7 linked regions of the Homo sapiens genome follow. The protein of the gene in region 7 interacts with the protein of the main gene of each other region in a pairwise test. Each region holds a gene or a part of one and is shown on either strand. Other genes may lie near its edges.

The links.
Region 1: the proteins of PRMT2 (region 7) and RIPK2 interact in a two-hybrid assay, tested with the Homo sapiens proteins (one large-scale study listed by BioGRID and IntAct).
Region 2: the proteins of PRMT2 (region 7) and YLPM1 interact in a two-hybrid assay, tested with the Homo sapiens proteins (one large-scale study listed by BioGRID and IntAct).
Region 3: the proteins of PRMT2 (region 7) and IQSEC2 interact in a two-hybrid assay, tested with the Homo sapiens proteins (one large-scale study listed by BioGRID and IntAct).
Region 4: the proteins of PRMT2 (region 7) and ZNF341 interact in a two-hybrid assay, tested with the Homo sapiens proteins (one large-scale study listed by BioGRID and IntAct).
Region 5: the proteins of PRMT2 (region 7) and R3HDM1 interact in a two-hybrid assay, tested with the Homo sapiens proteins (one large-scale study listed by BioGRID and IntAct).
Region 6: the proteins of PRMT2 (region 7) and KDM6B interact in a two-hybrid assay, tested with the Homo sapiens proteins (one large-scale study listed by BioGRID and IntAct).

The regions. Positions count from the first base shown.
Region 1 is NC_000008.11:89,771,316-89,774,815, reverse strand, and holds part of RIPK2 (receptor-interacting serine/threonine-protein kinase 2), read right to left. Parts: intron 3,076-3,500; coding exon 3,026-3,075; intron 2,150-3,025; coding exon 1,988-2,149; intron 1-1,987.
Region 2 is NC_000014.9:74,769,816-74,773,315, reverse strand, and holds part of YLPM1 (YLP motif-containing protein 1), read right to left. Parts: intron 1,625-3,500; exon of another isoform or gene 1,570-1,624; intron 1-1,569. UniProt on the Homo sapiens protein: Plays a role in the reduction of telomerase activity during differentiation of embryonic stem cells by binding to the core promoter of TERT and controlling its down-regulation.
Region 3 is NC_000023.11:53,241,351-53,244,850, reverse strand, and holds part of IQSEC2 (IQ motif and SEC7 domain-containing protein 2), read left to right. Parts: intron 1-1,379; coding exon 1,380-1,519; intron 1,520-2,941; coding exon 2,942-3,067; intron 3,068-3,500. UniProt on the Homo sapiens protein: Is a guanine nucleotide exchange factor for the ARF GTP-binding proteins.
Region 4 is NC_000020.11:33,783,996-33,787,495, reverse strand, and holds part of ZNF341 (zinc finger protein 341), read right to left. Parts: intron 124-3,500; exon of another isoform or gene 1-123. UniProt on the Homo sapiens protein: Transcriptional activator of STAT3 involved in the regulation of immune homeostasis. Also able to activate STAT1 transcription.
Region 5 is NC_000002.12:135,646,484-135,649,983, reverse strand, and holds part of R3HDM1 (R3H domain-containing protein 1), read right to left. Parts: intron 83-3,500; coding exon 1-82.
Region 6 is NC_000017.11:7,847,717-7,851,216, reverse strand, and holds part of KDM6B (lysine-specific demethylase 6B), read right to left. Parts: coding exon 1,489-3,500; intron 1,397-1,488; coding exon 1,270-1,396; intron 1,146-1,269; coding exon 1,040-1,145; intron 760-1,039; exon of another isoform or gene 197-759; coding exon 1-196. UniProt on the Homo sapiens protein: Histone demethylase that specifically demethylates 'Lys-27' of histone H3, thereby playing a central role in histone code. Demethylates trimethylated and dimethylated H3 'Lys-27'.
Region 7 is NC_000021.9:46,656,174-46,659,673, reverse strand, and holds part of PRMT2 (protein arginine N-methyltransferase 2), read right to left. Parts: intron 930-3,500; coding exon 754-929; coding exon of another isoform or gene 750-753; exon of another isoform or gene 1-749. UniProt on the Homo sapiens protein: Arginine methyltransferase that methylates the guanidino nitrogens of arginyl residues in proteins such as STAT3, FBL, histone H4. Acts as a coactivator (with NCOA2) of the androgen receptor (AR)-mediated transactivation.

The sequences.
Region 1 (3,500 bases), on a different chromosome or scaffold from region 7:
TCTAAGTGCTGGAATGCCTCAGAGCTTTACTATGGGTCCTCTCTTTGCTATGTATATTCCCTTCTTAGATGAACCAGTCCAGACTATCAATATGTTAGTGATGTTCAATTTTATATTAGGATCCTGGACTCTTCCTGGAACAACAGATTCATGTATTGTTGTAGTAGTAGCAGCAGTAATTATGACCGTTTCTACTTGCTGGCTATTATAAACAATGCTGCTATCACTAATCACATACAACTGTGTGAACATATGTTTTCATTTCTCTTGGTTTACCTGTTAGTGGATTGCTTGGTTGTATGGTAAATTTATCTTTCATTTTTAAGAAACTGCCAAACCGTTTTCCAAAGTGGCAGCATCATTTTATATTCCCACCAACAATGTATACGGATTTTGGTTCTGCCACATCACTGTCAACACTTGTTATTTTCTGTCTTTAATTATAGCTATTTTGTGGGTATGAAGTGGTAACTCATTGCAGTTTTAATTTGCATTTCCAAATGACTAATAATATTAAGCATCATTTTATGTGCTTTTTAGCTATTTGTATATCTCCCTTGGTGAAATTCAAATCTTTTACTCATTTAAAAATAGGGCTATATGTCCTATTATTGACTTGTCAGGGTTTTTTATATATTCTAGAATCAAGCCCTTTAGCAGATACATGTTATGCAAATATTTTCTCCCAGTCTGTGGCTCTGCTTTTTTTTTTCCTTCTTGGAAATGAGGTCTTGCTATGTTGCCCAGGTTGGAGTGCAGTAGCTATTCATAGGCACGATCACAGTGCACTATTACACATCCTCAAACTCCTGGGCTCAAGTGATCCTCCTGCCTCAGCCTCCTAAGTACCTGGGACTAAAGTCGTGGACACTAAATGCCTGGCTTTCTCTTTTCTCAATAGTACCTTTCGAAGTGGAAAAGTTTCCAATGTTTGCAAAGTCTGATTATAAATTTTTTAATGAATCCTATTTATTTTTGATGTCATATTTAAAGATTCTGCCTAACCCTAGGTCATGAAGATTTTCTCCTACATTTACATTTGGATGTCTGATCCATTCTACCTCTGAAATACTATCTTAATTCTGTAACTCTTCTGTCTTCAGAATTTCCACCTTAATTAGAATATTCCTGAAAGTGTCTTTTCTAGCCTCTTTGCTTCCACTTTTGTCTTTCTCCAATCAACTTTCCACACAGCAGTAAGAATTTCACCTAAACTTCTATCAGATCATGTCACTTCCCTGCAAAAGATACTTTAATGGCTTTCCATTGCACTTGGAATAAAAATCTAACCTTTTTATGATGGCCAATAGCCTCTCTCTTAACTCTCCAATATCATCTAATTCCTTTCCTTGCTCACTGTATTCCAGCCACACAGGCCTTCTCACTGTTTCTTGAGAATATAAAACTTTTTCCTCTTCTAGGCTCAGAGCCTTTATGCTTGCTGTTTTGTTTGGCTGAATACTCTTTCTTCAGCATTTGAATGACTGGCTCTTTTTCAAGCTTCAAATGTCAGCTCAAATGTTTGCCCCTAAAAAAAGGCCTTTGTTTCCCTCCCTTAATTAGTCTATTACCTTGCTTATTTCCTTATAAGACTGTCACAATTTGTGTATCTTGCTTATTTATTTGTTTTCACTCTGCCTTCTCAACTAGAATGTGAACTAGCTACAGAAAGTTTGTCTTGTTTACTACTCTGTTCCCAGGGCTCACTCCAGTATATACATAGCACATGGTAGGGGTTTAAGACATATTTGTTAAATATATGAAAGAAATTGTTACTCCTATCACACGATTTCTCTTTTTTGTTAGGAATTCTCAATTCTGCTCTAGAAGGAGTTACTCATATATAAATGCTATGATAAGACAGAAAATAATTTAAACAACTTCTAGCTAGTCATCTAATTTGCACAATTTTTCAAGGAATATTTTATTCACAGTATATTAACTAATTCTGTAATTCAAAGAGTCTAGGTTAAAACTATATACTCACTTAAGAAAGATGGTCTTTCATCTGGATTTTGTGCCCATCCACTTTCTATTAGAGAGATCATACGTGCTCGGTGAGGTATATCATATGGCAAACTTTCTTCATTAATAACAGGTCGATGTCCTTGTGACACACTATACATTATCTGCAAAGGATTGGTGACATCTGTCAAAACAAATAGATTGCATTCATTAGTAATATATTATGATTAAGCATATTACTTACATCTAAAACTAACTAAAAGAAAATAAGTGAATATTGAAATTTTAGGAATGATGCCTTACCCCCCTTTCTGTAAAAGGAATATATATACCCCAAACCATTGCCAGACTTGTCTGATTCCTATGGAATGAGTTTATATCCTCACCTCATTAATTTTGGGCTTGACCATGTGATTGGATTTGGTCAACAGAGTATTTGTAAAGCAGAGCTGAGCGAAACCTTGCAGAACTAAGAAGGGCTACAGCAACCAATATTTAATGTGAATGAGAAATAAATGTTTATTTCATAAGCTACGGAGATTCCGAGGTTGTTTTTTGTTACACAACAAGCTGACCTACACAAACCTCAAAATAAAGAAATAAACAATATTTTCAGGGAATAAAAAGGACAGATTAGTCTTCGATATTTGCTAGTCTTTATAGAGGGGGTAGTAATTAAATTATCATATAAATAATTTTACAGCTAGACTAGAACTTGGAAATAGTAATTTAAAATTCTTATTATGCAGGCGACAAAAATGAGGACGCAAGAGATTTGTGACTTGATCACAGAGCTAATTACTGTCAGAACAAGAATTAAAATCTGGGTTTTTCTGATCCTTAATCCAGTACATTTTCCAGTATATAGTAGACTCACAACTGGATCCTTAACCCGGTATATTTTGCAGTATGTGATGCATTCACAACTGATAAATGGTTGTTTTAGTGTGTTTTCCACAAAATGAATAAGCAGATTTAAAATAACATGATTTTTAGATAGTTCTGAGAGTGACCTACTAACATGATGTTATTGAGCATAAAAAAGTCAAACCATACTTACCTTCAAAAGGCTGTTTTCTGGATAACACTTCCCATGTGATAACTGCATAGCTGTTTAACATAAGAACATACATGTTACATATTTTAAATGAACTCTGCATAATAAACTAAAATAGCACTATTTTTAAAAGCTGACTGAAGATACCATTTTTCAAAGTGATAAGGCAGCAAAGAATTACTGTATACAATGAAGATGATAAATGCTCATGTAGTTTGGAAACAAAATCAACTTTAAGTTAAAAAATTAGGAAATTACTGTAATACAAGCTTAACGTTACATGCAAGATTAACTTTTTGTGGATGATTTAATTCTTGGACACCCAGATAAGCTATGCCCTTTAATTAAATGATATTATTTTTCACAAAGAACAAAGAACAAGAAAAAAATTGTCTCATGGAGCTCTATTCTACTGCCTTTTTTCTGCTCTCAGCACTATCTTCTTTGGTAGTAGAAATATCTTGCCTACAGTTTAACT
Region 2 (3,500 bases), on a different chromosome or scaffold from region 7:
GTAGGTCAATTTCTCTTTTTTTTTTCTTGAGATGGAGTCTCGCTCTGTCGCCCAGGCTGGAGCGCAGTGGCGCGATCTCGGCTCACTGCAAGCTCCGCCTCCCGAGTTCACGCCATTCTCCTGCCTCAGCCTCCTGAGTAGTTGGGACTACAGGCGCCCGCCACCACGCCCGGCTAATTTTTTATATTTTTTAGTAGAGACGGGGTTTCACCATGTTAGCCAGGATGGTCTCGATCTCCTGACCTTGTGATCCGCCCACCTCAGCCTCCCAAAGTGCTGGGATTACAGGCGTGAGCCACCGTGCCCGGCCGCCTTGTAGGTCAATTTCTATTTAATATGAACCCTATAAGTAGTAACCAGATCTAATTCAATCCTATGGTAGGCTTCAGCACATTTTTGAAGCTCTGCAAATAAATAATAATGATATCACTCACAAATGTCCTTACTGACCCTAAGAGAAGTGTGATCATCCCTATTTTAGAAAGAAAAAAAATGCCTGAACTTGCTAATGATGCCAGCTCTTCTGAATGTCCCATCATATCAGATAACTCCATTTCATATGGGATGTTGTTTTATAGGTAGAGGGAAATCATAATATAGGTCACATTTAAAACGAGATTGAATGAAGGGATTTCAAACATAAAGAATGTAGAACTATTGGCTGGGTGCGGTGGCTCACATCTGTAATCCCAGCACTTTGGGAGGCCAAGGCGGGCGGATCACAAGGTGAGGAGTTCGAGACCAGCCTGACCAACATGGTGAAACCCTGTCTCTACTAAAAATACAAAACTTAGCTGGGTGTGGTGGCACATGCCTGTAATCCCAGCTACTCGGGAGGCTGAGGCAGGAGAATCGCTTGAACCTGGGAGGCGGAGGTTGCAGTGAGCCCAGATCCTCGCGCCACTGCACTTCAGCCTGGGTGAGAGCGAGACTCCATCTCAAAAAAAAAAAAAAAATTAAGAATATAGAACTATTTGTCACAAATACTGTTATTAAGAAAGATGCTGCCGAGGCACGAATATCGCTTGAGCCCAGGAATTCAGACCAGCCTGGGCAACATGGCAAGATCCCATCTCTCTGAGAAAAAAAAAAAAAAAAGAAAGATGTTGATTTTAATTTACTCAGGAAGCACTTACTGACCACTGCTGCTAGTAATGAACTAGATACTAAATGATTTTCCAAGTGGAGAACTATAAAGGAGGTGAGTGTTTGTGTGTAATGTTTTAAAGATTAATTTTAGAAGATTACCTTCCCTATCCAGGTTATCATAAATGCCTATAAGACAATGTTCTATGTCTTATATTCTAAAGCAGGGGGCAGGGAGGACACCTGGTAAAATAATGAATTGGGTTTCCATTTTAGAAATTTATTTAAAATAGGCTTAAATATTTTTGAGATTCACATTCTACTGTAAGAATCAGGGTCACCAGATAAGCTTAGTCCCCACCTATTTTTATTTTAAATGCTCATTTACTTCATCTATTCCTCCAGCTCCTTCCCTCATTCTCTCTCTCCTTCAGTCAAACTTCTTGAAAGAGTTGTCTGTACTCACCATCCCCATTTCCTCACCTTCCATCACTCCTCAAATCAATGCAATATGGCTTCAGTCACTATGAAACTGCTCCTGCCAAGGTCAACAATAATCTACATGTCAGTAGGTGCAAAAGATAACTCGCAGTCTTTATCTTGCTTGACGTCTCAGCAGTACTTCACACAGCTGACGACTCCCTCCTCCTAGAGTCTGTTCCTTGACGTTCATGGCAACGCACTATCCACTATCTTGATTTTCCACCTATCACACTGGTGCCAAAGTAACTGTGGTTTTGCCATTAAAAGTAATAGCAAAAACTGCAATTACTTTTGCACCAACCTAATATGAATACCTATTTGGCCATTCTTTCATTGGTTCCCTTAGATACTGCTATTTGTGGAGCTAGGCTTAATGTCCTTTAACCTCAGTTCTTACTCTACACACATTCCTTGAGAGGCTTCATCTATTTCTGTGTCTTCAAATACCATTTTTATGCTGATGACTTATAAATCTATGTCTCCCAGATCTTACATCTAGACTCCAGAGCTATATCTAACTTCCAAGTGGACATCTCCATTTGGAATCTATGTCTCAAGAACCCCAAACTCAGTATGTCTGAAACCTAACTCATGATTTTCTCCTCACCCCCAGAAATGTTCTTCCTCCTCCTCCTTTAGGTTTTTCTGTTTTAGTAAATTTGACCACCATCCACCCTACGGCCCAGCCCAGAAACCTAAGAATCATTCTTGATGCCTCCCTCTCCATAACTACTCAACCTCAAAGTGAATTCTAGCAGCTAAATATTTCTCCACTCTTCCCACTTCTCTCCATCTCAACTAATACCATCAAAGTCTAAACCACTATTATCTCTTGCCTGGATTACTTCAATAACTATTCTCTCTAAATCACTCTTGCTCCTTTTAATTCTGCTCTCCACACTGCAAGCAGAGTGAGCTTTCAAAAATGCCAATCTGTCACATTCACCTATGTAAAATCCTTCAATGGCTTCCAACTGCCCTTAGAATGAAGTCCTTACAGGCCTTCCCTGATCTAGTTCATACCTACCATCCTCACCCTGAGCTTTCAGTGAGCCTTATTGAACTTAATTCTTTGAATTCTAACTTCTGGTTAATTTCTACTCTTTTTCTTTTTTTTTAACTGAGATGGAGTCCCACTCTGTCGCCCAGGCTAGAGAGCAGTGGGGCAATCTTGGCTCACTGCAACCTCTGCCTCCTGGGTTCAAGTGATCCTCCCACCTCAGCCTCCCAAGTAGCTGAGATTAAAAGCGTGCACCACCACACCCAGCTAATTTTTTGTATTTGTAGTAGAGACAGAATTTCACCATGTTGGCCAGGCTGGTCTTGAACTCCTGACTTCAAGTGATCCGCCTGCCTTGGCCTCCCAAAGTGCTGAGATTACAGGCATCAGCCACTGCACCTGGCCTACTCATTTTTTTTTTTTTTAGGTCTCACTCTGTTGCCCAGGCTAGAGTGCAGTGGCACGAGAACTCCTGGGCTTAAACAATCCTCCCACCTCAGCCACCCGCAAGTAGCCGGCACTACAGGCATGCAACACCATGCCTGGCTAGGTTTTTTTTTTTTTTGAGTCGGAGTCTCACTCTGTCGCCCAGGCTGGAGTGCAGTGGCGCGATCTCGGCTCACTGCAAGCTCCGCCTCCCGGGTTCACACCATTCTCCTGCCTCAGCTTCCTGAGAAGTTGGGACTACAGGCGCCCACCACCACGCCCGGCTAATTTTTTGTATTTTTAGTAGAGATGGGGTTTCACCATGTTAGCCAGGATGGTCTTGATCTTCTGACCTCGTGATCTGCCCGCCTAGGCCTCCCAAAGTGCTGGGATTACAGGCGTGAGCCACTGCGCCCGGCCACCTGGCTAGTTTTTTAAACTTTTTGTGGGCGGGGGGCGGGGGGGGGGGTGTCTCACTTTGTTGCCCAGGCTGGCCTTGAACTCC
Region 3 (3,500 bases), on a different chromosome or scaffold from region 7:
ATTAGAAAATTTCTTTTTATCACCCAAAATGTGCCCCCTAGAGGCAATCATAGTTAATGTTTTGGTGCGTTCTAATCTTTTCCCCCATGCATATGTAACTTTTTATATAGTTCAGATCATACCACACATGCAATTTATCTTACTCTTTTCCCATAATTTGCTACTGTAATTTTCTCATGCTATTGAAATGTTTTTGTAAATGTCAAGTTTTTAATAGCTGTGCATTATCTTATTAAATGGATATACTATCCTCTATTGTTAAAATTTAGGTTGTTTCAAATTGTCCCCATAAGTAACACTTAGTGAGTTTTTTTTTTTTTTTTTTGAGACAGGGTCTTGCTCTGTTGCCTAGGCTGGAGTGCAGTGGTGCAATCATGGTTCACTGCAACCTCCTCCTCCCAGGCTCAAGCTATTATCCCACTTCAGCCTCCCAAGTAGCTGGGGCCACAGGTGTGTGCCACCACACCCAGCTAATTTTTGTATTTTTTGTAGAGATGGGATTTTGCCATGTTGCCCAGGTTGGCTCTCGAATTCCTGGGCTCGAGCGATCCACCTGCCTCAGCCTCCCAAAGTGCTGGGATTATACCACGCCTGCCCTAGCATTCTTTTTTTTCTTTTTCTTTTTTTTTTTTTTGAGACAGAGTCTCAATCTTGTTGCTCAGGCTGGAGTGCAGTGGCGCGATCTTGGCTCACTACAGCCTCTGCCTCCCGGGTTCAAGCAATTCTGCCTCAGCCTCCCGAGTACCTGGGACTACAGGCACATGGTGCCATGCCTGGCTAATTTTTTGTATTTTTAGTACAGATGAGGTTTCACCATGTTGGCCAGGATGGTCTTGATCTCCTGACCTCGTGATCCACCTGCCTCGGCCTCCCAAAGTGCTGGGAGTACAGGCGTGAGCCACCATGCCCCGCCTGCACTAGCATTCTTGCACATACCTCTTGCACATATTTCTGAGTAGTTCCTTAGGGTAGATTCCTAGAAGAGAATCACTGGGTACAAACATTTAGGTTCTTGCCAAATTACCTTCCAAAAGAGTTATGTTACCATACATGCCCACTTCCCTGCACTCTTCCTAGCACTGGATTTCATTTTAAATTATTTTTGCTAATTAGGAAGGCAAACAATAGTATCTGATTGTTTTAATTACAGTGTATTCTGAGTTGTTGAGAAAAAATTCCCCACTCTGGGGAAGATAGCAACTGGCTGTTGTACTGAAGGACACCCTCCCTGCCCCAATCCTGGCTAAGGGGCCGAGGGTACCCATTGACCCTCAGTCCTGACTATCGTGGCCCGTGCCTGGGTGTGGGGGTGGTGGAGCACCCCTACCACCCAGTGCCCATAATTATGTGACATATCCCTGTGTTACTCCCTCCCCCAGGGGTTGACAATGGTGAAGACATCCCCCGAGACCTCCTGGTGGGCATCTACCAGCGCATCCAGGGGCGTGAACTGCGGACCAACGATGACCATGTGTCCCAGGTGCAGGCTGTGGAGCGCATGATTGTTGGAAAGAAACCAGTAAGTGCCTTGGGAGGCTGCAGAGGGGCCAGGGTTCAGGTCTGCCTCTGCCACTAAGTGGTAAGTCACTGCACCTCCCTGAGCCCCAGGTGCCCTTTACCTGCAATACAGAGTGGGTGATAATGCATTCCTCAGAAGGCTGTGGTGCAGAGTGAATGCATCGAGCACATTCCAAGGCCCATAGTGGGTACTATATAAATATTAGCATCCTTTTCACCTCCGGCTTTGCCTGTCCATCCTAAGTGAAGAGCCAAGCTAATGGTTAGCAGAAAACCAAAGTAAGAACACACTTTAGGCCAGGTACAATGGCTTGTGCCTGTAATCCCAGCACTTTGGGAGGCCGAGGTGGGTGGATCACCTCAGGTCAGGAGTTCCAGACCAGCCTGGCTATCATGGCAAAACCCTGTCTCTACTAAAAATACAAAAATTAGCTGCGGGCGTGATGGTGCATGCCTGGAGTTCCAGCTACTCAGGAGGCTGAGGCAGGAGAATTGCTTGAACCCGGGAGGCGGAGGTTGCAGTGAGCTGAGATCGTGCCAACGCACTCCAGCCTGGGGCCACAGAGCAAGACTCCGTCTCAAAAAAAGAAAAAAAAAAAGAAAACGCTTTAGCCAACAAACATTTGTGGATGCCTTTCCACTGAGCCCAGCATTTGCTGGGCACCAGAGTTGGTGCTGGGCATTCATAGATATGAATCAGACGTGTTCTCTATCCTTGGGGGCACTCACAGACCAGTCGGGGTGTGAAACAAAGACACATATAATACTTCTGCTTTATGGTCCAGTTTAGGAGAGGAGAAAGGAGAGAGAGACCATTTTCAGCCTGGAGAAATCAGGGAAGGCTTCTTGGAAGAGATCATTTTGGGATTGAATTTTTTTTTTTTTTTTTTTTTTTTTTTGACATGGAGTTTCACTCTGTCACTCAGGCTGGAGTGGAGTGGCATGATCTCGGCTCATTGCAACCTCTACCTCCTGGGTTCAAACGATTCTCCTGCCTCAGCCTCCTGAGTACCTGGGATTGCAGGCGCCCACCACCACACCCAGCTAATTTTTGTGTTTTTAGTAGAGACGGGGTTTCACCATGTTGGCCAGGCTGATCTCGAACTCCTGACCTCAAGTGATCCGCTCGCCTCGGCCTCCCAAAGTGCTGGGATTACAGGCGTGAGCCACTGCGCCCGGCCGGGATGGAAATTTGAAAGGGAGTTGAAATATGACCATGCAGAGCTGGGCAAGAAAGACATTCCAGACAGAAGGGCAAAGGCAAGGTAGCAGATAAGTTTAGGTCTTAGTTGCTGATACCCCTTGTGTCAGAGTGACACACATGTATGAGTGGTAAACTTCTTGCGGTTGAAAGTTAAGGTGCCAGGAGGCCTGAAGCTGATGGGCTGGCCTTGCTGACACCTGTTTCTTCATGCCTGTCTAGGTCCTGTCTCTCCCTCACCGTCGACTGGTTTGCTGCTGCCAGCTCTACGAGGTGCCAGATCCAAACCGCCCCCAGAGGCTAGGGTTGCATCAGCGGGAGGTCTTCCTCTTCAATGATCTCCTTGTGGTATGAGCACTGTGGGGGAGGAGATGGGAGGGAGAGAGTGAGCTTGACACCTAAGTCTGGTGTGAACCATATTGATGTAGGTGTGTGGTGTGTGGAGTGTGGCGGGCGAGGTGTTCTGCCATGCCATCTGCATGGTCTCAGGCAAGGCCCAGGCCTTCTCTGCCCCTCCTTTTCCTCACAGATGCATTTGGAGGTAGTAACAGACACACAGGGACAGAAAATATGAGGACCAAAGGAGATGACAGACTTACAACCTGGGAAGTGGTAGGAAATATCCCTGTCCACCTCAATAGCCCATAGGGTTGTGTGAAGAGGGGTGAACCTGCGACCCCCCAGGTCAGTCTGGAAATCTTCAGTAATCAAGATGCTTGAAGTGGGCTCGGCACTGTGGCTCACACCTATAGTCCCAGAACTTTGGGAGGCCAGGGCAGTT
Region 4 (3,500 bases), on a different chromosome or scaffold from region 7:
CCTCTCTGTTCTCCCTCTGGAATGAATAAAGTACTTCTGAAAAACCATCAACCCAGTCGATACGGAAATGCTGGTCCCTACAATAGAATGCTCTGTGGTCATTAAAAAGATTAAAAAGGTCAATCTGTGTTTCCTGATCTGGAAAGATCTCCTGGACATACTGCTAGTGGGGAAAGAAAGCAGTAGAACAGCTTAACACAATCTCGTCTTTCTTAGAAAAAAATATAATCCCTACTGGATATGTAAGCTCCAACAAAAAAAAAAGAAAGAAAAAATACAACCTGCACACCCCAAAAAAGCCCTGGCCATGTGTCTCTGTAAATAAACTGAAGATGCAGGAAGAAAGATGGGGAGGTGTAGGGAAAGGACAGACCAAAGTGTCAGTGGCAACTACAACTTGAAGGGGAAATTTAACATTTTACTTTATGTACTCCTATATTGTTTCCATTTTTATAATAACCATGTATTATTTGTGTGGTTTTTTTTGTTTTGTTTTGTTTCGTTTTTTGTATTTTTTTTTTTTTTTTTGAAACAGAGTCTTGCTCTGTTGCCCAGGCTGGAGTGCAGTGGTTTGATCTTGGCTCACTGCAACCTCCATCTCCTGGGTTCAGGCAATTCTCCTGCCTCAGCCTCCTGAGTAGCTGGGATCACAGGTGCGTACCACCACACCCGGCTAATTTTTGTATTTTTAGTAGAGACGGGGTTTCATCACGTTGGCCAGGCTGGTCTCAAACTCTTGACCTAGGTGCTCCACCCACCTTCACCTTCCAAAGTGCTGAGATTACAGGCATGAGCCACCGCGCCTGGCAGCATGTATTACTTTTGAATAATAATTTTTAAAAGCCATAAAGAGCAATTTGGTAATATCAAACTTACAATGCATTACTTCTTTTCCCTTCTTTATTGTGGAGAAATATACATAACAGAAAATTGACCATCTTAAGCTTCTTTTAAGTGTATAGTTCAGTGGCATAAGTACATTTGCACCATCATGCAACCATCACCATCATCTGTCTCTAGAATTTTTTCATCATCCCAAACTGAAACTCAGTATTACACATGCATTTTAACCTAGCATTTCCACTCCTAAGAATATACACTACAGATACACTTCCAAAAGCTTGCCAAGGGACCCACACAGCATTGTGTGTACAAACTAATAGCTGAAATGTAATTTAACGGTTCATACATAGGCTGGGCGTGATGGCTCATGCCTGTAATCCCAGCACTTTGGGAGGCTGGGGCGGGGGGATCACTTGAGGTCAGGAGTTCGAGACCAGCCTGGCCAACATGGTGAAACCACATATCTACTAAAAATACAAAAATTAGCTGGGCGTGATGGTGCACACCTGTAATCCCAGCTACTTGGAAGGCTAAGGCAGGAGAATTGCTTGAACTCAGGCGGCAGAGGTTGCAGTGAACCAAGATCGTGCCATTCAGTCTCAAAAAAAAAAAAAAAAAAAAAAAAGGTTCATACATAGAGAACTGGCTAAATACAAGATGAAAAATTCATTGAGGAAGACTACTCAGATGTGAAAAAGAAGGTGCTGTTGGTAACAACTTCTGGGGGGGGCCCGGGGGAGGGGGACCCACAGAATTTAGCCTCCAGGGGAACTGTAAGCACACATTCCTTGGGGAACATCGCCAAGGTATATGATAAGGAAAAAAAGGCACATAAGTTATAGTATGTGCTCATTTTTGCAAACGTAAGCAAGCGTTTTATATATGTGTAAAATAAAACTAGAAGAATGCAGACTAGACCGCTAACAGTTACCTTTGGGGAAGAGAATTAGGAGTATTTTGCAAACTGCAAACCACAAGTTACACCCTGTTGGTGGTTATTTTAAGAATTAAAAATAGGCTGGGTGTGGTGGCTTGCATCTGTAATCCCAGCACTTTGAGAGGCCAAGGTGGGTGGGTAACCTGAGGCCAGGAGTTTGAGACCATCTTGGCCAACATGGTGAAACCCCGTCTCTACTGAAAATACAGAAATTAGCCAGGCATGTGGTGGGCGCCTGTAATCCCAGCTACTCGGGAGGCTGAGGCACGAGAATGGCTTGAACCTGGGAGGCGGAGGTTGTAGTGAGATCATACCATTGCACTCCAGCCTGGGTGACAGAGTGAGACCCTGTCTCAAAATAAAAATAAAAAATAAAAAAACTAAAATTGAAAAGGACAAAATAGAAAACACTGTTTTGTAAAACTTTTGTTGCAATACATCCTATGTGTGCTTCCTGGGTTGCAATATGAAATGTATTTTTTACCATAGGTCGTAGGAAAGAAAAAAAAGGAAAAACATTGGATTGTCCATCTGAAGTGAGAGGGAGTTTATTTTTTTATATATGCTTTTGTCCCGTCAAGGATTTTCCCTCAAGTTTTCTCAATCTTTAGATCCTTTTCAATTAAAAAGCAATTAAAAAATTTAACTAATAAAAAAATCTAAAGATTAATAGAAAAGAAAATGTCAGTGTGTTTCAACTGGGGAACCAAGGAGATGGCGTTTTGTTCAGGTTTGAGTGGGAACTTACAGTGAGAGCAGTGTCCCCACCACAGGGGGCAGAGTCAAGAGTCCCTCACACAGGCTGGGTGCAGTGCCTCACGCCTGTCATCCCAGCACTTTGGGAGGCCGAGGCAGGAGGATCACCTGAGGTCAGGAGTTCGAAACCAGCCTGGCCAACATGGCAAAACCCTGTTTCTACTAAAAATACAAAAAACTAGCTGGACATGGTGGTGGGAGCCTGTAATCCCAGCTACTCAGGAGGCTGAGGCAGGAGAATCACTTGAACCCGGGAGGCAGAGGTTGCAGTGAGCCAAGATCTGCCACCGCACTCCAGCCTGGGCAACAAGAGCGAGACTTTGTCTCAAAGAAAAAAAAAAAAAGAATAAAAAGTCCCTTCCACACAACCTCCAGGGGCTCTTCTCTGCTTTAGCGGTGGTGGGAATCCCTTGTTCATGAATTAAGGCAGGTGGATCAGGGGCCAGGAAGGAGAGAGGAAGGAGGAGCAAGGGGAGAGGCAGGAGGGCTGGAGGGAGACAGACAGCGACAGAGAGGAGGGGGAGGGGGCTGGAGGGAGAGGGGAGAGGACAGGGGAGGGAGGCTGGAGGGGGCTAGAAGGAGATGGGGAGAGGGAGGGGAAGGGAGGCTAGAGGGAGATGGGAAGGAGGAGGGAGAAGGGGGCTGCAGGGAGATGGGGAAGAAGAGGGAGATGGGGAGGGTGAGGGAGATGGGGGGGAGAGAGATGGAGAGAGGGAGGGAGATGGGGGAGGGGGAAGGAGATGGGGAGAGGGAGGGAGGTGAGGAGGCGGAGGGAGGGGGGAGGGAGAGGAGTAGGGAGAGGGAGAGGGGAAAGGAAATGGGGAAGAGGAGGGAGAAGGGTGCTGGAGGGAGATGGGGAGGAGGAAGGAGATGGGGAGGAGGAGGGAGATGGGGAGGAGGAGGGAGACGGGGGCTGAGAGAGATGAGGGGAGGGACTGAGTGAGATGGGGAGGGAGATGGAGAA
Region 5 (3,500 bases), on a different chromosome or scaffold from region 7:
GTGAGACTGGCAGGAACGGGGATGGGTAAGGGGCTGTAGAGTACTGAACAGGCTGTGAAGAGGACTGCAGAGGATGAACAGGCTAAAGAATAACAGGTTGGCAAACAATGTTAATGTCAGAATAAAACGTTAGAAGAATTGCATAAAACGGAAATTTACACTTTTTTGGCAATAGCTTTAACTACATTTATAAAGTCATTTAAAATATAACAACATAGGAAACAACAAAAACAATACAAAGTGAAGCAACTCTAATACAGTAAAACTTTCAAAAACATGTACGCCTGAATTTATTACATAATTAGGAGAATAATTTTTTGCAATAAAATATTTCTTTATTATAGATTAACGGGAACAGGTGACTTAGGCATTTTGAATCCTATTATTTAACAAAGACCCCCGGGTTAAGTCAGTAAAAGCAAAACTACTTCTCATTATTTCCTGGTTTTATGAAAGGGTTGCCCTATTTTGCAGTATAACACTAAATTATAAATGAAAAACTTCATTCTTACTATCAGACAGTAATAACTTACACAATAACTATTCCAATTACCCTACTGATAAGGTGAAATTAAGCAGTCTTTTGGGACCAAAGCCCCTAACTTTTAGCAATTTTATAAGAAAAAAGCTCTGGGTAAAAAAATATATCCCAGCACTTTGGGAGGCCGAGGCGGGCGGATCACGAGGTCAGGAGATTGAGACCATCCTGGCTAACATGGTGAAACCCCGTCTCTACTAAAAAATACAAAAAATTAGCCGGGCATGGTGGCGGGCGCCTGTAGCCCAGCTACTCGGGAGGCTGAGACAGGAGAATGGCGTGAATCCAAGAGGCGGAGCTTGCAGTGAGCCGAGGTCGCGCCACTGCACTCCAGCCTGGGCGCCAGAGGGAGACTCCGTCTAAAAAAAAAAAAAAAAACCCAAATATATATATATGGTGGGAACTATTAAGAATAATAGCCTAAGGAACAACAAACACATATATACATACAGACACATGCACACACACACAAACACCTCTTTTATATAAGGAAGATAAACACTTTCTTTGTAATTAACACATTTCTATTAAGATAGTACATGTTAGGAGCTGAGAAACTAGTTACTTAAAATCTCTGGCCATTAATGAAATACTCCTGAGTTTCAGGAAAAAAAAGGGTTTTATGTTTCCCAGGGGCACTCAAACACAGGTGTTTTTTTTTTTTTTTTTAAAGTTGTAATCACTTTTCAATCTTGGGAATACAGCTGGTCATCCACAAACTAAAATTGCATCTGTTTAATTTTCTCATATTTATACTGTTTATTACAAAAACGGTAATATACATATTGGCTTAAAGACTATAGCAACCCACTTTACAGAAGGCAGTTAGACTAAGGTAAATTAAGTGACTTGTAGACAGCCACATAAGCAAGTAGATGAGGAACCCAGGGAATCTCACTTGATGAAAACTCTTAGTTAAAATGTATATTCATGCATCTCCTTCTGAACAATATCTCTGCATGTTGTCTTCAGAGACAATACTTTAAAAATGTTAGATAAACTAATGGAATTAAGATTGTTCAGGCAATAATTTAAATAGAGAACTTCTATGTCAACTAAGATAGACATTGTTTGTCTATGACATCATAGATAGATAATAATGATTTGAGTTGCACTTTTACCACAAAATCAACACAACGGTTTCTAAAAAACAAAAGCTTAGATAAGCTTAAAAGAAAGCAAAAAAATCTATAATTAAAGCATTAAAAAAATCTTTCAGTAAAAGCTGAAAGATCTATGAAGTAGCCTCTGGTTCCTCACAAAACTCATGGCTAGAAATAAGTGAGCTTCCTAACAGATGATAGTACATATTATACTACATGAGGTGCCATAGCTTTAGAACTCTCAAGAACAAGCTACTTGATGTGTTATTAAGTCAGATAACCATTAAGACATAACTTTCAGATGACTTGATCTCCTATGTGTCAGATGAAACAAAAGTTTTAGTCAGCTGGGGGATTAAGGAAAGTACTATGAGCACCAAGGGTATGAATTAATGTCTTCCCGAATTTCAGAGAGTAATGAAAAAAACTGTGGGCTAGAAGATTGATTGATGAAAGTGAAATTCTGACACCATTTAGGGAAGAAAGAGCCTTAGCACATCCTTTTCCTACTTGAATTGCAACTGGCTGCAAAACAACATCCACCTAAAGTAATTGGTTTTACGTTAGGTCTAAGAAAAGTAGCCCTTCTGAAGGCTTTGGAAATCATAGCATTATTTTGTTTGGTTATTTGCAATCTCATTGATAAATTATTTCAGATTGTGCAAAAGGTATTCATTGAGAATCACTTTTGAGTCTCTGTTTCTGGATCTGATGATGCATTACCTGAACTTGGAGCAATGCTAGAAAAATAAGTTATGAAATTTGATGAATATCCCAAGAATTCCAATTATAGCTCATTAAAGCATCTGTTTCTAAACTAGGTGGCCTACATCTTCATTTAGAACTGTCTCTTATCACTAAATCAGACAAAGTTCTAAGAGATAATAATCTGAAATATATAATCACAGATAAATCCCAGAGTTTTTAAAAGTTGCCAGATTAACATTATTTCCACTGAAATTTAAATAAAAATGAAACCAAATGAAAATTAGTGTTTTAAAGCTCCTGGTAAAATACATGGCACTGCAAAGACAACTACATGACAGCATAATAAAGAGGAAACTCTTTGGGACCAAGCTGACTGAAGCCAAGGCAGAGAAAGCCAGGGAAGAAGTTTTATGCGAGCTCATTGTATGTAACCAAATGGGATTGGGAAGGGAATATGGGAGTCTGTGGAAATAGTTTTAGGCAATCTCTTCTACATACATTAACTGATTTCTATGGTCTTAGAAGTATATCCATAACTTGTAAGTTCTTCTTTTTAAAAAACTGCCTTGCCCAGTATTAGGAGTCTTAATTGCCAGAAGTACAATTATTTTTTATGACTTTCACACCATTAAATAATGTAATTAAACTTGTATGTTCTTCAACCCTGCAATACAAATGATATCATTTGTGAGCAAAATTAATGAAATTTCTCCAGTTCAAGTTTATCATCATACTTCTTCTTTTTTTTTTTTTAAGGGATACTCACTTATTTATTTAATTTTTTTTTTTTTTGAGATGGAGTCTCACTCTGTTACCCAGGCTGGAGTGGAGTGGCCTGATCTCGGCTCACTGCAACCTCCCGGGTTCAAGTGATTCTCCTGCCTCAGCCTCCTGAGTAGCTGAGACTATAGGTGCATACCACCACACCCGACTAATTTTTGTATTTTTAGTAGAGACGGGGGTTTCACCATTTGGGCCAGGCTGGGCTCGAACTCCTGACCTCAGGTGATCTGCCTGCCTCGGCCTCCTAAAGTGCTGGGATTACAGGTGTGAGCCAACGCGCCAGGCCCATCATACTTCTTTCATACAAAATCACTCTGCATGTTTTCACCAATGGAATACTGAGTCTTGCAGGGAAAAAGAGGTATAAC
Region 6 (3,500 bases), on a different chromosome or scaffold from region 7:
TCCTGGAAGGATGAGGCCTGGTACTGTGCGTACTTGGCAATGGTGGTGTGGGAACGGGAGCTCTCACAAGGCCAGATCTGCCGAGTGCCTGTCAGATCCCAGTTCTCATCTGAGGGCTGCTGCACCTGGGTGCGAACTTCCACGGTGTGTTCGCCACTCGCTTCCACCAGGGTCTTGGTGGAGAAGAGGCCCAAGTCTGGAAGGGAGGGCCGAGCAGGGTGTCGGGGCAGAGGCAGAGGATAGGGACCGAGGACCCAATCGACCCTTTCCCTTCCTACTCCTCTGGCTCTGACAGGGTGGTCATAGGTTTAGCAGAGCTCAGCCCAGAAGAAATAGGCAGGAGCCCTAGCCCCACAGGAAGCTGGGAGTGCTGGCCTCTATCTGCATCCTCACCAGCCCTCTTTCTCCTGCAGCTGCTCAAGGACTCAGCCCCTAGACCAGTGTTCCCAGATGTGTGCGTGGCCATGTGCACCGCACCTGACAGACACATAGTAGGTGCTCAATGAATGGCAGCTTCTTTTTTCCCCATTTGGAGTCTAGTCAAAACAGCAGCTTCTTTGAGTTACCATTGGATCCAATTAAAGATTAAAGATTCAGTCAAGTGAAAGCCTGAAATGTGCTTCAAATAACTCAGTGTGGGGAAGGGAGAACATACAGGTATAAAGGAGACAAGATTGACCTTTGTATTTCTATACAGCTTTCTCTAATTTTGTATGTGTTTGAAATTCTGCGCAATAAAAGACTGAGAGAGAGCCCCAACATCACAGATTTTCAGGGGTTTTCTAAAATCTGTATTATTCTCTTCCTTAATCACCAAAAAATTCAGAAATGACTAATCAGGCCCTGACTATGGCCCCTTCTCCCTTGCCAAATGCTGGAGACAGACAGATGGGAGAAGAGCCCAAGGCCAGCAGACCCATCACTCAGTGGACTCCTCACGGCCACTGTCATGAGTCTTCAAGTGTGGGATTTCTCAGAGGGTCCTACATGCCCCAGACCCTTGTAGCCCTCCCTAACACTTTCTGCCCCCCATACTCACTGAGCCGCAGGGAGCCCGCCAGGCCCCGGATCACTGTGATGGGATTTCGAGGGTCTGTACAGAACTGCAGCAGGACAGGTGAGAAGGCATCCCGTTTGCTCTCCAGCTGAGACATGACCAGGAGAGCTGGGGTCAGAGCCCTGGCCCAGGCTCAGAGCACCCCAGCAGTCCCCAACACTGTCTTAGAACCCTCTGGCAGGGGTGGTTCTGAGGCCAAGTGGCACACATACATAGATGCTGGGTGTAGGGGGGTTGAGTTTTTCCCGGGGCAGCTTCTCCTCAGTGTTGATCTTCGGTTTCACAGACTGGGCAGGGGAAAGGTAGGACTCTCGAAACTTCCCTTTCACCTTGGCATTCCTGCGGGAGGACAGTGGAATGAAGACAGAAACATCAGGGTGATGGGGGAAGGGAGCCTGTCTCCGGGACAAGCAAGCAGGCAGCCGACTCACCTGCTGGCGCGCACGACGTCAGCAGCACAGTGGCTGATGGTGAGGTCTGCCATGCGCAGCCGCCGCTCTTCCACCTCAGAGGCGATAAAGGTCTCCTTGTCACCACTCTCTACCTTGATGAGCCGGATCTTCAGCTCCTTGGGGGGCCCCTCACTAAGTGAGCGCAGCTTCAGCATGTCGGCCCGGCTGACACCCGGTGGCCCTGGGGCTTCCTCCCGAGCCTTCTTTCCAGGGACAGAGGCTGACGGGGGTGTGGGCTGGGCAGAAGGTGCAGGAGCTGATGGAGGGGCTGGAGCTGTGGGTGGCTTGGCCTTGGAGGCCCCGCCAAGATCGGGCCGGGACTTCTCACGACCCTGGATCTCCTCGCTCTGCAGGTCCAGGTTCCCCAGCACCCGGCGGCTCTTTTCTTTGGGGACCTTGGCCTTGGCCTTTGCCCTGCCCTCACGGGGCCGACGACCCACACTGTCCTTACAGGCCCGCCTGTGCCGCCGATGCTCCTTCTGATGCTCCTTCTGTCGCCGCTTACAGCTGCCTGACACTGCCGCCACCCCGCCAGCCTCCTCCTTGGCCTGTGCGGGGGGCAGCAGTCGCTCAGTCCCACTGTCCGCTGGCTCTGCTGTGTCCACTGGGTCGGCTGGGTCAGTGGCACTCCGGCCCACCCGCTCCACAAGGGTCTCGCAAGCCCGGCTGATCTCTTCTAGCACCTCAGACTCAGAGCGAGCAGGGGGCAGAGATAGGGGTGGGGGCGGTTGGGTGGGGGTCATGGGGCCCGGGACTGGCTCTTCGCCCGCCCTGCGCTCCCGGGCCCAGGGCCCGCCTGAGGTAGAGAACTGAGATGACGAGGAAGCAGAGGGCTGTGGGGAGCCCTGGGCGCTAGGGGCCGCTGAGGTGGGCGGCAGGGCGGTAGCACCTGATGGGGGGCCAGGGGAATACTGAGTGGTGGGCAAGGGCCCAGGCCGGGTGGAAACAGCTGCTCCAGTCCCCCGATAACAGTACTTTTGTCCCTCCAGCACGGAGGCCAAGGATTTGAGCAGGCTGGCCGGGCTGGGGGGTGGGGGTGGTGGTGGCTGTGGCTGAGAGGGTGGAGGGAACTTGGCTAGAGGCGGTGGTGGTGGTAGGGCTGGTGGTGGCTTCTTCTCCTCTTCCTGGGTGGCCGTGGTGGTGGTGGTGGTGGTGGTGGTGGTGGTGACGGCGACAGCAGGAGCAGTAGTGGTGGGGGCTGTGTCGGTGGGGAAAGGAGACTGCAGAGATGCAAAGGGCTCCTTCAGCGGGGGTTGGGGGGCCACGCCTGCTTCGTGTTGTTGCTGTTCCTCTTCCTTGCGAATGGATTCGTCCAGCATCTTCATGATGTTGGCCAGCCCATCAGGTAGGATCTTGAATTCGGCTGGCTCCTCAAACTGGTCCTCCAGCGGAGTGGGGGGAAAATCAAAGAGTCGAGGGCCTCGGGCAGGCAGCTCCCCAACCCCGGGCGGCACAGGCTGGGGGGCTTTACTCAGGGGGCCTGGGGGTGGCCCCGGCCCCACCTCGGGGGTCTTTGGGAAGGAGACCCTGGGCCGGGGGCTCTCCGGGCGCCTGAAGCTTCCTGAGGTATTTTGGTGGCAGGAGGAAGGAGGGGCTGGAGGCAGGGCAAGAGTCAGGGGTACAAGAGGTGGGTCCTGGGGGTTCTGTGCTGGGCTGGGAGGCCGGGGAAGGGGGTCTATACTTCTGGCCAGATAGGGTGGTGGGGGAAAGGACACAGGCCCAGCAGGGCTGCTGCTGTGGCTGCCACTGTTGCTGTTGCTACTGCTGGTGGTTGGGGTTGGGGGAGTGGGAGGGGTGTGAGAATCCTGAGTGCCCACAGAAAAGCGGGAGGCCGGAGGCCCCAAGAAGCCCTCGCGATGGGGGAGGGGTGGTGGGGCAGGGCGGGGGGGTCCCTCAGTCCCAAAGAAGAGCTCTTCTAAGATCTCTCCATCCTCTCGGGCTGCCCGGCAGGCCGGACCCTTCAACCAGGCAGGGGGTGGTGGGGGGCGTAA
Region 7 (3,500 bases):
CTCCCTGCCACTGCCAGGCAAGCCTGGGCTACTATTTTAATTTACTCTTTGCTTGTCTGGTAGGGAAAACAGCATGTATTTTAATTCGCATTTTAACTACTAACAACATTATAATTTTTCATATATTTATTGGTAATTTTATTTATTTTTTGCGGTTTGCCTGTTCACATGATTGGGCTGCAATTCCATCTGGCTAGTCATCTCTTTCTAATTGATTCCAAGACCTGACAGCACGTGATTTCTCTAATTACTTGTTTGCTTTTACAATCGTGTTTTTGCTGATTTCTGCCACATAGACTGCCAGATTCTATCTAGCCCAGGGTCCATTCCATCCATTGTTGCTGCTCATTTCTCCACCTAAGATGGTGCACACAGGCCCCCATGGATGTCTGTCGCTGACGCTGATTCCATGCAGAATTAAGTTTTCACGTATGGCGTGAGAGAACAAGGGCTAATCAACTGCTCCAGAATAATTTGCTGACTTGGCCCTCACTCCCTCCTAATCGTAATGCCACCTTTTTCACATACGAAAATTTTTGTTCCTTGCATTCTACCCTGCTCTGCCCATCTGTCTTGTTATAGCACCATACTGCTTTAATTACTCCAATGCTACAACAGATTGTCCTATCTGGGTGCACAGGTACCCTCATTTATCCAACCGTCGTATGGGATCTCCCAGGGCCTTGGCCCACCTGCAGACTGTGGACCAGGAGGCCCCACAAGACGGTGCCAGTCCCAGCTGTGGACACTTACTTCAGAGCGCTGAGGTTGAACTCGTACGCGTTGTCCCAGAAGAGCACCTTGCTACGATAATCCTTATCAGCACTGCAGGGCACAAGGTGCAACGCAGCCATGGTGGGCCAAATGACCCCGTCCTCCTTCAGCCAGGCATCCCGGGCATACAGGATGGACTCGATCATGAACTCAAACTGCATAGGAGTGAAAGACACACAGGAGACACATCACAGGCCCCGCGGCTGCACAGGCCTCTCACCACCACATTCGTAACACTAGTCTGACAGTTCTACAGTTTTAGCCTCAAGAATATTCCTGCCTAGGCCAGTGTACCATGCAAGAGAACATCTCGAGGGTTTATTTTATGCCCACACGTCACTGATGCATCTCACAGCCTGGGTTTAAGTCACATAATTTCCCATTAGAACTATGAACTGGAGCAGAGCTAAAAGCAAGGACAAATCTTCACTCTTGTCCCATCTCAGTCACGGAAGAGCTCGTAGCTACCAGATTTTGAAAGAGCCCTGAAGTGTTGCCGGGTCCCAACTGTTACATAAAATATATTTGGTCCGTAGCATTCTCAGAATTTTCACACCCTTTAAGTGGACTGAAATCACTGCTTAAGAAACCGAAAGCCACGCAGGCATGCCCTGGCCATTCACGGGTCCTTTGGTCCACCTTGCATCCCTCAGAAGGTCCCAAGTCAAGGGAAGCACATCACATCTATGACTGAGGAAGTGGGGACCCAACGCCCTCAAAGGCCAGGCTTTCTGTCTGAACCAGAACTTGCTTCAAACACAGAAAGGAGTAGAGGGAGCACCAGCGAGGTGGGGCCAAGGCCTGTGGCCCCTGCAAACCACCCAGGGAGCCTGCACTTCATCCTGTAGTTGATGAGAAACAACAGAAGTGTTTTGCTTCCTTAAATAATCTCAAGCTGCTTTTATTACAGAAGTAATACATGTTTTGTACGGAAAATGTAGAAAACTTAGAAAAGCTCAAACAAACATAAAAATCACATATTAACCCAGTACCTAGAAGGAACCACTGTTATCACTCTGCAGTTTACCTTCAAGTATTTTTCTACACACGCACACAAAAAATATATACATCTTATTTTTCAATCTTATTTTTTCAGTTATGTAGTGAAACAGCTTTTCTGGCGTACAGCCTACGAACTTGAGCGCTTGTGTGGATTTTGTCCTCACAACCACAGCCAGCATACACACAGCTCTGCCACCCAAAACACTCTTCACCCTTTTCTCTGGTGGTCATGCCCTCCCCGACCCCAGCCTCTCCAGCCACCGATCTGGTCTCCATCCCCATGGTCTTGTGTCTTTTTGAGAATATCATACAAATGGAACCAAACAGTACATAACCTTTCAAGACAAGTTTCTTTCACTCACTGTACCGTTTCTGGGGTTCCTCCAAATTACCTGTTTCAATAACTGGCTCCTCTTCACTGCTCAGTGGTATTCCACTGTGTGGACGCACCAGTTTATCCTTAAGGATTATCCAGATGAAGGACACTTGGGTTGTTTCCAGGTTTTGTTTTTTTTTTTTTTGCAATTATAAAGAGAGCTAGTATAATCATTCACATACAGGTTTTTGTGTGAACACAGCTTGCATATCTCTGGGTTGAACACACAGGAGAGGGACTCCTGGGCATAAGGTGAGTGCACATACAAGTCTATAAGAAAGCACCCACCTGTTTCCACAGTGGCATGTTCCCTCCAGCAATGCATGACTTTCAGCTGTTCCTCATCCTCGATGACAGTTGGTATTACTATCAGATTTTTTTTTTATTGTAGTCATTTTTCAATGGGTGTAAGTGATATCTCACTGTGGCTTTAATGTGCATTTCCCTGATGGCTATGCTGAACATCTTTTCATGTGTGTATTTGATATCTGTATATCCACTTTGGTAAAGTGTCTGTTCAAGTATTTTGCCCATTTTCAATTGGCTTGTTTTCTTCCTGTTGAGTTTTGAGATTTCTCTGTATATTCAGAACACACACTGGATATGTTCTTTGCAATATTTTCTCCTAATCTTAGCTTGTCTTTTTTATTCTCTTAGCATCATCCTTTTGCAGAGCAGTCATTTTTAGTTTTGATGAAATTCAATTTATCAACATTTTCTGCTATGGATCACGCTTTTAGAGTAAAAAGTCTTTGCCCAAGTCCAGGTGATGAAGATTTTCTATGATTTTTTCAAGGAGGTTTATAGTTTTACATTTCACACACTTAGATCTATGATCAATTTTAAGTTCAGCTGTGTATGAGATGTGAGGTTGAGGTGTTGTTTTTTAGATATGGATGACAACTATTCCAGTAACATTTGCTGAAAAGACTGTCTTTTCTCCATTAAATTGATTTTTGTACCTTTGTTAAAAAAAACCCATTGACCATATTTGTAGAAATCTCTCGTCTCCATTCCATTGACTTACGTGTCTGTCCCTTCACCACATTGTCCTGATTACTGTAGCTTCAAAATCAAGTAGTATAGTTCCTCCAACTTTACCCTTCTTTTAAAAAATTCTATCAGCTACTCTAGTTCTCTTAGTCCATTTTTGTGTTGCCAAAAAGGAATATCTGAGGCTGGGTAATTTATAAAGAAATGAGGTTTATTTGGCTCATGGTTCTGCTGGTTGGGAAAGTTCAGGATTGGGCATCCAGTGAGGGCTTCAGGCTATTTCCCCTCACGGTGGAAAGCAAAGGGGAGCTGGCACGTGCAGAGACCACAGGGTGGGAGCAGAGGCAAGTGGGCG